Linked DNA regions of Homo sapiens: region 1 is linked to region 2. The links come from fine-mapping of genetic effects on gene expression. A gene starts in region 2. The other region holds a variant in brackets. All regions are shown on one strand. Distances are between the middles of the regions. Region 1 overlaps ALS2 (alsin Rho guanine nucleotide exchange factor ALS2). Region 2 holds the start of ALS2 (alsin Rho guanine nucleotide exchange factor ALS2).

Evidence for each region. PIP is the estimated chance that this variant, and not a neighbour inherited with it, causes the effect.
Region 1: its variant is the best candidate, but not a certain one, in a credible set for the expression of ALS2 in spleen (GTEx, PIP 0.63).

Annotation. Positions count from the first base shown.
Region 1 is chr2:201,732,526-201,737,908 of GRCh38, forward strand. ALS2 (alsin Rho guanine nucleotide exchange factor ALS2) reads right to left here. Exons shown (of 34, transcript NM_020919.4): 13 at 751-913. Among named protein-coding and RNA genes, the nearest start is that of MPP4, 37 kb to the left of the region's middle. The variant T/C (reference allele first, on the strand shown) is at 3,326.
Region 2 is chr2:201,778,403-201,783,785 of GRCh38, forward strand. ALS2 (alsin Rho guanine nucleotide exchange factor ALS2) reads right to left here and starts at 2,531. Exons shown (of 34, transcript NM_020919.4): 1 at 2,475-2,531. RefSeq lists a silencer at 2,201-2,370 and enhancers at 2,501-2,570, 2,581-2,810, 2,821-2,890.

The DNA.
Region 1 (5,383 bases), 46 kb before region 2:
CCACTGCACTCCAGCCCCAGTGACAGAACGAGACTCTGTCTCAAAAACAAACAAACAACAACAACAATAAAAAAAACCTATAAGGGACTTTGGAGTCATTATAATTTTTCTAGAGCCTTTCAGGGTAGAAACAAAATGAAATCACATATTTCGATGGGATTTGAAAGGTGAATGTCTCAGGACCAGTTTTAACATACATCTATATCCTAGTGTGGTGCTAACTTCCTAGGATTCCACCTAACTAGTTTTATGTAAGGGTGGACTAGTTAACATTTGAGAAAATCCTGTAACTGATTCCTCTCAGCATTTGCTAAGGTAACCTAAACACCTGGCATAAAGTCTAGCATGAATCCAGGCTGGGTAACACCCCTGCCTTACAGGTGTATGCCATTATACAGAAAGCCAGGGCTTTAAAGAGCTCTGTTTAACTCATAGTCAGCATGCATCCAATAAATTTTGACAACTACTGAATGAGTAGCATCTGATAGAGTCTCAACTTTAGACAGTTTCATAAAATGAATACAGTTTATTCATCTTGATAAGGCCCTAAAGGGAAACTGAATCCACAGAAAACTCAATTTATCTACAGTCATACTTTCCTCTGTCATTTCCCTGAAGAAAATTAAATTTAATTAGACACAGGTAAATATTAAATTACTGGAGTTCCAGATCTTGTGGTGGCATAATCCATACAAACAACTATGATCCTTGGCTTTCCAAATGTCCAAAGAGGTATACATGGGAGCTTACCACTTCAAAACAAGTAGCAAGCTTTAGCAAAACTTTTGCGTAATTATGAAGTCGTCTGATTGGCAAGAAAAACAAAGTATTCAGTATTTCCATCAACTGAGTGTTTTCGTCATTCACTTCTGACAAATCTTGCAACAGCTCTTGGTTTTTATTTAGGAAATCACTAGAGGCAGAGGAAAAAAAAATTTAGTTAATCATTTTGGAATTGGTAATATGTACATTAAATAAAAAATTTCACTAGAAAGTACCTCTTTCAGAATGCACATTTTTTAGGTGCTGTGAAAGTAGAAATACAATGAAATAAGCCAGATATAATTAAAAGAATTTCCCTATCTATAAGACAGGATTTTTAGTATGAAAAGTAGCAAATGGTAGCAATACAAACGGTTAATCACAGACTTGTGCCTATATTCTAGGAAATGAATCATGCATCCAACAATTTAAGATGAATAATCAGAGACCAGCTGACACCATTACCTGTTAATTTCAAAGCCAAAAGTCACAGCAATAAATGGCAAGACTAATTGTTCTAGGCAGCTGTGCTAAATAGAAACACTGGAAGAAAAAGCAAAGCTCCTTGCTCCAACAGAATTAGTGTGGATATTAAAACACTTCTAATTTCTTCTTTTTTCCTTCAATTATTGATCACCTAACAAGAGTTTATTATAGGAAAGTAATAAAAAGCTGCAAGAACTAGTATTACAGTTAACAAGAAACAATAAAGATGATTATATGTGAAGATTTCAATGCTGAGATCTTCAAAAGCATTTCAAACTGAAGCCAAAAATTAGCTAATATTCAGTTTTTAATAAATTCATTGTTAAAATTTTATTCCAAATTTTAATGCTGATCAATAACCCATTCAGGCTTAGCTCACCAAACCAAAATACTTAATGGTAAAGCAGTAAGAGTTGGTGAGCTGGGTGCAGTGGTTCACACCTGCAATCCCAGCACTTTGGGCTGCCAAGGTGGGTGGATAGCTTGAGCCCGGAAGTTTGAGACCAGCCTGAGCAACATAATGAAACCCTGTCTCTGCAAAAAATACAAAAATTAGCCAGGCATGGAAGCGCACACCTGTAGTCCCAGCTGCTCAGGTGGCTGAGGCAGGAGAATCATTTGAGCACAGGAAGTTGAGGCTGTAGTGAGCCGTGGTTGTGCCACTGCACACCAGCCCGGGTGACCAGCCTGTCTCAAAAAAAAAAAAAGATCTTAGATAAAGTGCCCAGATTTTATTTATATTTGGCTGGTGCTAATGTTCCTACTTCTTTCTCCACGTTCTACTGCAGAGATCAGCTGAGGACTTATTTAATTTTACACAAGTGTTCTGCTTTGACCTGCTCCTGAGAGACGGAGGTAAGATATAGTGAACACAAACTCCCTTGGACCATATTTCTCCTCAATACCCAGTACCCAGTCTACAGTAGACCAGAAATGTTCCAACTCTTGTGAACTCCATTACTTTCCAGGACTCACTCATGTCCTTACCTATAATCTTCCCCGAAAGAGGCCAAGCTACACTCCTAAGAAATCTGAACCAGAAACCATCTCTGATCAGCTTATCTTTTCTTGGGAGTTTTTAATCTAATAGTGGCAATATCACTCTTTCCTTATATGGCAAGGTCTGTACTTTTTACTCAGATTTTTAAAATAAAAAAATATTAAAGGTAGAAACAACCTAAGTGTCCATCAGCAGATGAACTGATTGATAAAATGTGGTAATGTGTACATACAAGAGAATATTATTCAGCCATAAAATGGAATGAAATTTTGACGTATGCTACAACATGAATGAACCTTGAAAATACTATACTTAAAGAAATAAGCCAGACACAGAACGACAAATAAATACGTGATTCGACTCATATAAGGTACCTAGAACAGGCAAACTCAAACAGAGAGGAAGTAGAATAGAGGTTACCAGAGCCAGGCAGGCAGGGGGAGACAGTATGGGGGGAGTTATTATTTATCATGCACTGAGTTTTTCTCAGAGATAATGAAAAAATAGTGATGGTTATACAACATTGCGAATGTATTTGATGCCCCCTAAATTGTACACTTATTAGTGTACAATTAAGATTAAAATGATAAATATGACATTACATATATTTTATCACATTAGGAAAAAAACTTGCATAATAATCAAACCACCAGGCAAGCCTGATGTGAGCAGCTGAGTGATCAATTAGATGAATGATAAGTGCTTGTGCATCATCATCCAAGATCCACTAACAGCCATGTGGGCAGCCTAGCTGTGCTTTAGACATTCTCAAACTCTCCTCTGAAAATGAAATCTTTACGGTAATTTTAAATATTGACTTTGTAAACAGAAGTTGGAAAAAGATGTCATTGCTGCCTTTAACTATGTAAAACCCAGGCTCTGGGCATGGTGCTGTGCAAAAGGCAAGAGGCTTTCAACTTATGTCATCTCATTTTTCTGCTCTAACAAGGTCAATTCTTCAGTACTGTGAATCTAACTCGGAAATACCAGAGGAAGGTCAACAACAGCAGAATAAGGAACCAGGGTCAGTAACTGCTGTAGCCCTTCAGGAAGCCCAGAAGCTTTCCATTTAAACTG[T/C]CACAAGTCTCCATCTATTTTTTGCATCTTCCTGTAATTAAACTTGCTTTTCTTCAAGCATTACTATTTGCAAAAATAACTATTGAATTTTCTTTCTGCTCCATTTAATTATTGGTTTGGCTACAGCCCCATTTTCTCCTATTTTCTTTGGCTATGATTCAGCATTTCACCAACATTATAGGTTAACTAAGCTATTTTATTCATTATAATAAAGATATTTAAAATAATAAATATAAAATCAGTAATTACAAATGTAAACTTGTCAAAACCAGAAGTTCTCAAATGTAAACAACAACAACAACAAACAATAAGTCCATCCATGTGCTGCTTATAAGAAATATATCAAAACAATGCAGACAGGCTGAAAGTAAAAGAATGGAAAATTGTGGTGTATTAAGATCAAGAATTTTAAAGTTACTACATAAGGTTAAAGACATATTCTTGAAACTGTCATTTTAAAAAAATAAAGGCCAAACCCCTATATTTTGGAAATCAACAAGCATGTGAGTCCAATAATTCATAATGGATTAGAAAAATACTTTCGAAAATATTTAGAACTGAATGACTATAAAAACAAAACGTACTAAGACTTGTAAGATTCAGCTAAAGCAACAATTAGAGGGAAATTTATAGCCTTAAATGGCTACATTAGAAAAATTTTAAATTTGAAAAATTAATGAACCAAGTGCTAAACTAGAAGTTGTTAAGAAGTTAACAGGTGAACAAAAAGAAAGTAGAAGGAAATAAAAAGCAGAAATTAATGAAATTTTTTAAAAGCGAAAGAAATGATTCCCTAATTTTTGAAAAAATTAATTTAAAAAGGGGTAAACTGCCGACAAGACTGATCAAGATAAAAAAGATAAAAGGCCCAAATGAATAATCGTAAGAATGAGAAACAGGGGGTACAACTACAGTTATTCTGGTGTAATCATTTTAAGACTATGGTAGGAACATTATGCCAATAAGCTTTAAAACAAGGGTGCAATGAACAATTTTCCAGAGAAATATAAATAACAAAAGCCATAAGAAGAAATAAAGACCTGAACATACCTATTCATTAAATCAGTAAAAACTCCCTACAGCAAATGCCCCCATGAAACCTAGATTATTTTTACAGATGAATTCTACTAAATCTTCAAAGTACAAATAATTCCTACTTCATATAAACTATGAACTTCCAGGAAACAGAAAAGGAGAAAAAGCTCCTCCATATCTGTGAGTTCCAAATCTGCAGATTCAACAACCTCAGACCAAAAATATTTCATAAAAAAATTATGTTTCTACCACTTTTTTGTCACTAATCCCTAAACGATACCATATTACAACTATTTATATAGCATTTATATTTTATTAGATGTTATAAGTAATCTAGAGATGATTTAACATATATGAAAGGATGTGCACAGGTTATAGGCAAATACTAAGCCATTTTATATCAGGGACTTGAACATCCTTGAATTTTGGTTTCCTTTGGGAGGTCCTGGAGTCAATCCCTCATGGGTACCAAGAGACAACTGTATAAGTAAATTTAATTCAGCAATGTATTAAAACCTTAATACATTAAGATTACTGAATTTTGGAATTTGGAAACTCAGATATTTAACATTATAAAAATTCCTCTACAACTTTTAGAAATAGGGCCTTTTTAACCCTATAAATTATATCTACCAAAAACCTAAAGTAATCATTTTTAATGGTGAAATATTAAAAGTATTCTCATTAAAACTAGAAATGAGATGAGAATGTTAGCATTCCTTCTATTAGGATAAAAAATCAAAAGCAAACATGGGGCTGGGCATGGTGGCTCACGCCTGTAATCCCGGCACTTTTGGAGGCCGAGGTGGGTGAATCACTTGAGGTCAGGGGTTTGAGACCAGCTTGGTCAACATGGTGAAACCCCATCTCTACTAAAAGTACAAAAATTAGTTCGGGGTGGTGGTGCACACCTGTAGCCCCAGCTACTTGGGAGGCTGAGGCAGGAGAATTGCTTGAACCCAGGAGGCAGATGTTGCAGTGAGCCAAGATTGCGCCACTGCATTCCAGCCTGGATGACAGAGC
Region 2 (5,383 bases):
CAAAAACTACCAATTTAAATATTTTTTCCTCTACCCACCTGGATCAATCAGTTCAGCTACATGCAGGCAAACATCAAGACATAAGCTAAAGAAAGCACCATCACATATACAGATGAATAAGAGACAGGGAAAGGAAAATTAAATGCAATATGAAAAAGAAACAAGCCAGAGATTGTTGCTATTTTATTGATGACTACCTAACATTTTCTTAAGGACTGACACCCTACAAAACCGAGTACTTTCTTATTACAGACAACAAAATTGTTTGGTCATCAATGAAGGGTTAAGAGAAAAAAATCTGTTAAAACTCTCTACCAGGAAAATTCATATCCTGAATACACTTGAAATACGTGGTAGATTTAATTCCACAAAGTTATAAAAAGAGCTAAATGATTTAAAAGTCACAAATCCTCACAGCATGCCTCTGAGTGAGAAAGGTACCTCATAGTACCCAAAGCGGGCCTTCCTTTATACAAGCTTAAAAATCACCACTCTGCCTTTCTTCCTAGTTTTTCAACTCATACTTTACCTAGTCTCACATTAATAAATAATTGTAGATTTTTACAAGTCAGTCACATTTTTGAGATTATCATTAGAATGGACCCAGCAGCTACTGCTTTAAACCCAGTTTTCATGAAAAGGTAGGAGATTCCACCTAATTACAAAAACACTAACATCAAGACTCATTGAAGTTCTTAGCATACCCTTTGCTTCTTTAACAGTCAAAGTGCCCAAAGTAAGTGTTTCAAATGACAGCCCAAATTCTGAAAAACTGAAATTTGGAGAGAAGGGATTCCTGTTTATATTGAGTACATTTAAAAAGTAAATGGCCTGCATAATGCCACTCAAGTTTTGTTTTTTTCCCAAAATTATCGGTTTGGTATTTCATTTTTCTGGATCATTACAGTTTCAAATTTTAACACTGTTAAACAACTTTGACGTTTTCTTGCTATAATTATGAATTTTAAATCTGCTAATACTGGTCATAGTTTAGAAACTAATAAATTCAAACCATGTATAGATTCTGTCAGTATCTTTTTCACATTAAAATGTCCTTATGGAACACCAAAATTACTACAGAACAACTTGAAATCATATTTTATAGCTACTTCCTTAAAATATTCAGTTCCCTTCCCCATCACTTAAGAAAAGAGTCAGTTTGGATCATGATGTAGTGGGAGGAATTAATTATAAAAACAGCTAATATGTATTGAATATTTACCATAAAACAGGCACTGTAATAAATACGATACATGAACCATTACACGTAAAGGTACTGTTATCAGGAAAACATTTTTATCCCCAATTTAGAGACAAGAGAACTGAGGCAGAGAGATTAAATAACTTGCCCAAAATCAAAGATGTAAATGGATGTGACTCTGGGTATGTTCAGATACAAAGCCTAGAATCTTAACCACTATGCTTATGTTATCAAGGTTAAAACACCGTAGTTTACTGCAAAAAATTTTTCACTGCTTTAAATTATTCATTAACTCAAAGGTCAACCGGTCACTCCAAATCATATGATAAATGGGGGGGAAAATGTGGGACCAATAGGTTTGCTGAAGTTTTGTACCTGCTCAGAATAAACATATCACACAATTTTATTCCATATAGCCAAATATAAGGGTAACTGAGTAAAGATCTTCACTTGGGTACAGCAGTCAGTTCCTTCTCCATCCTAAACCAGAAAGAAAGCACTGTTCTTGGATATGCCACTTCAACAAGAGTGTTTTTTCTCTTCCACCATCAAAGCCTTAAGCAATAGAACGATTCTACCAGTCTACTGTTGCCTGTCTCCAAAGCAGCCCTATTATCCGAGGACGAACACCAGCGTCAAGGACCTGTGTTATTTTTCTGGCTTCGCTTCTCAAAATAACTTATCTTCTCCTCTTGATGAATTACTTGATAGGCTCAAAGACTTGCCTAAACTACTAATTCTTATTATCAAAGCTATTTTCTTTCTCCGCAACCGCCTTTTCAAGTAGCCCTTGGTCCACTCTTCAACGCGATTTGCACCCTGTGGCAAGGCCGCCAGGGACACTCAGCAGGGTTCCAGGCCACGGACCCCAGTTTATCAGCTCAGCGCCTAGTGTGGGCATTCAAGAAATTCTCGTGAATGAATAGCTGGAAGGCAGCGTGGGTGGAGGCGGGAAGAGGGGGCTTGAAGGAATTTCACGCAGCTGAGACCACTGCAGCGGCGCCCAGTCTGGGGAGGGAGAGACCGGGGCAAGTGGGAGAACCTGGGGCCAAGGCAGGGGCCGCCTCGGGCGCTGCTGGACCGGCAGGAGCAGTCGATCGCACCCAGAGCTGGGAAAATGCGGGCGCCGTCTCCGCAGGCCCCCCGCAGGGCGCTCTCCGGCCTCGACCACAGCCTCCGCCTAGCTCCCTGTCCCCGGCCTTCCGCATACAAGGGGTCCCAGCCGATAAGCCCTCCTTAGCCAATAGCCAACCCGGGACCCACACTCGCTCACCTGAAGCTCCACCGGCAGCACCGCGCTCCGCATCCGGCGCGAGCTTGGCAACCCAGTGGGTCCGCGGGATCAGCTGATTCATGGAGGGCGGGGCCTCCGGACAGGGCGGGGCTGCAGGGCGACTAGCGAAGGTAAACGAGGGCGCGGGCGGCTCTTGGAATCCGAGCTCCTGGGAATTGTTCTTGGGAGACTGTCGACGGCGTCTGTTGGGGGTCAAAATTGCTGAGAATGCGTTAGGCACTGCAGGCTACGTACTTGGGAGCACAGTCTCTCCCTTAGTTTAGGGCGGAGCTATCAGTCCTGAGATGCGCTTTGATGATGACGTAGAATAGAGTCGTCCAAGCCTAGCTACCCGAGCGCTCCCATGGTAACAGGCGGTGGTGAAAGTGGTTGGGAGCAGCAGTCGTTTGTTACCACCTCAAACTGCAAGGGCCGGAAGTATAAAAGTAAAAAGGCTGAAATATTTTCAAATTGCCTTTATGGACAGTACCCTAACAGTGGTCGCTTCTCCCCCCTACTCCCGCGAATGACGTCATCGCCTCGCGGCCCCGTTTCGCCATTGTATCCTCAATGTGTAAACTTACTGGTTAGTTGCAACCCCAAAAGATGGGGTGGGATAGGAGAAAATGAAGTGGCCTCTCCAGTGATTCCCGTAGTACTCCCCAATATACAATCAGTAAAATCAGCTTTCTTGTCCCGCGCACAGTTTCATAACACTGTTTTTCGCAGCCACAGTCCCACCCCACCCAGCCTGCACTCTCAAGTCCTCCCATGATTTTATGATTTTCCAGAGCTGCCACTCATGTCGCACAGTGGGTGCAAACCTTCTGCTGCTAGGCATTGTGCCATCGCTGGACCTGCAAACATGCAAATATTTAGACCATCAACGACAGATGTGTAGTCGGGTTCTGAAACTCCTATATCCTATTCACCAACACCCTCAACTCAATTTCCTCCCTGATCCTTCGCCCACCTGCAAAACTGTTAGTCTGCAACAGTTCAACCAACCTTGCTCACTCCTGCATCGGTGCAGAAAATCACACAACCCTGAGAATTGGCACCACTGCGAACGAAAAGTGTCCAACTTCAGTCGGGACTTCCACGTGCGACTACGCAATATTGCTGAGCCTAAGACAGTCACATTTACACATTGCTACTCAGATTATCTCCTATTCCCCTCCCCTGCTGTTCCCAGCCCTCACGCTCTTCTAACCTCTTACTGAACTCTACTCACTCACCCGCTTTGGTAAAAATAAAAATAAAAAATTTTGTCTCTTACATCTCTGAGGAAAGTGAGACCACTAGAGGTGAATTTCCTTAAATCCCAAATCCCATCAGCCACTACCACAAAACCTACCTGCAACCAGTTTTGATTTGTTTTGTTTTGTTTAGAGGGAGTCTCGATCTGTCGCCCAGGCTGGAGTGCAGTGGCGCGATCTCGGCTCACTGCAACCTCCGCCTCCCAGGTTCAAGCGATTCTCCTGCCTCAGCCTCCCAAATAGCTGGGATTACAGGTGCCCGCCACTACGCCCGGCTAATTTTTGTGTTTGTAGTAGAGATGGGATTTCACCATGTTGGCCAGCCTGGTCTCGAACTCCTGACCTCAATTGATCCACGTGCCTCAGCCTCCCAAGGTGCTAGGATTACAGGCGCGAGCCACCGAGCCCCGGCTCCTTTTCACCGAGTCCTTTTCTTCTCCCTCTTTCTTCTTAGAAGATCCTGAACTCAGGATCCCTAATCTCCCCAAAGGAAAGACTTTGTTCTGTTGATGAAAAAAGACAAACTTTATAAAATATTTGAAGAGGTTAAATATACTCTGATCGAAACATGAGTAACCATGGCCTGGGACACAGCCTCAAGAAGTCCTGAGAACATGTGCCCAGGGTGGTTGGGTTATAGCTTGGTTTTATACATTTTAGAGAGACAGAAGTTATAGGCAAAGACATAGATCAATACATGGGGGGCCGGTGGTGCTCACAGATTATAGGTGGATTCAGAGACTTTATGATGGGTTGAAAAAGCTAAGCTTTTCCTAAAGAGTTGAAGTTAGCAGAAAGAAATATTTGAGTTAAAATGAAGGGGGTTATAGAAGCCAAGGTTCTTGTTACGTAGATGAAGCTTCCAGGTAGCATATGTTATAGGACCTTAAAATGTGTCAGACTCTTGGTTAAATCTCTCCTGGATCAAGAAAAGACCTGAAAAAGGAAAGTGATTCTGTATAAAATGCAAATTCCCCCCACAAGAGACAGCTTTGCAGGGTCATTTCAAAATATGTCAAAGAAATATATTTTGGGGTAAAATATTTTTATTTTCTTCAGGGCCAACTATCTGTCTTGTAATGCTATACCATAGTCAGGTTAGAGTTGGATAATCTTATTGCTACAAGAGTCTATTTTGTCAGTCTTATGATCTCTATTTTCATTTCATGAAAATGGTTTAGACCACTTTAATGCTGGTCTAAACTCCAAAGGGAGAGGATATAATGAGGTATGTCCAACCTGCCTTCGCATCATGGCCTTAACTAGTTTTTAAGGTTTTCTTTAGGATCCCCTTGGCCAAGGAGGGTGGAGGGAGATCTATTCAGTTGGTTGGGGGGGCTAAGAATTTCATTTTTTTATTTACATTTCCATTACTTATCCCTTCTCCTTCATGTATTTTCAACCTCTGCCTGTCTTCTTATTCCTATATACTTACAGTGTATAAACCTGCTATCTATCTCATCTTTAATTTTTTTACTTTCTGCCTTTTTTCCTTTCCAACCTCATTTCCTACCTCTACTTTCTGACTTCCCAGTCTTCCTCACCATTTCCTTAAGTCTACTGAAATCAATAGTCATCTTCTCATTTTGTAATCTAATGGTACTGTCATAGAATGGAAGCATTCTATGCAACCATCTAAAACAAAGAGGA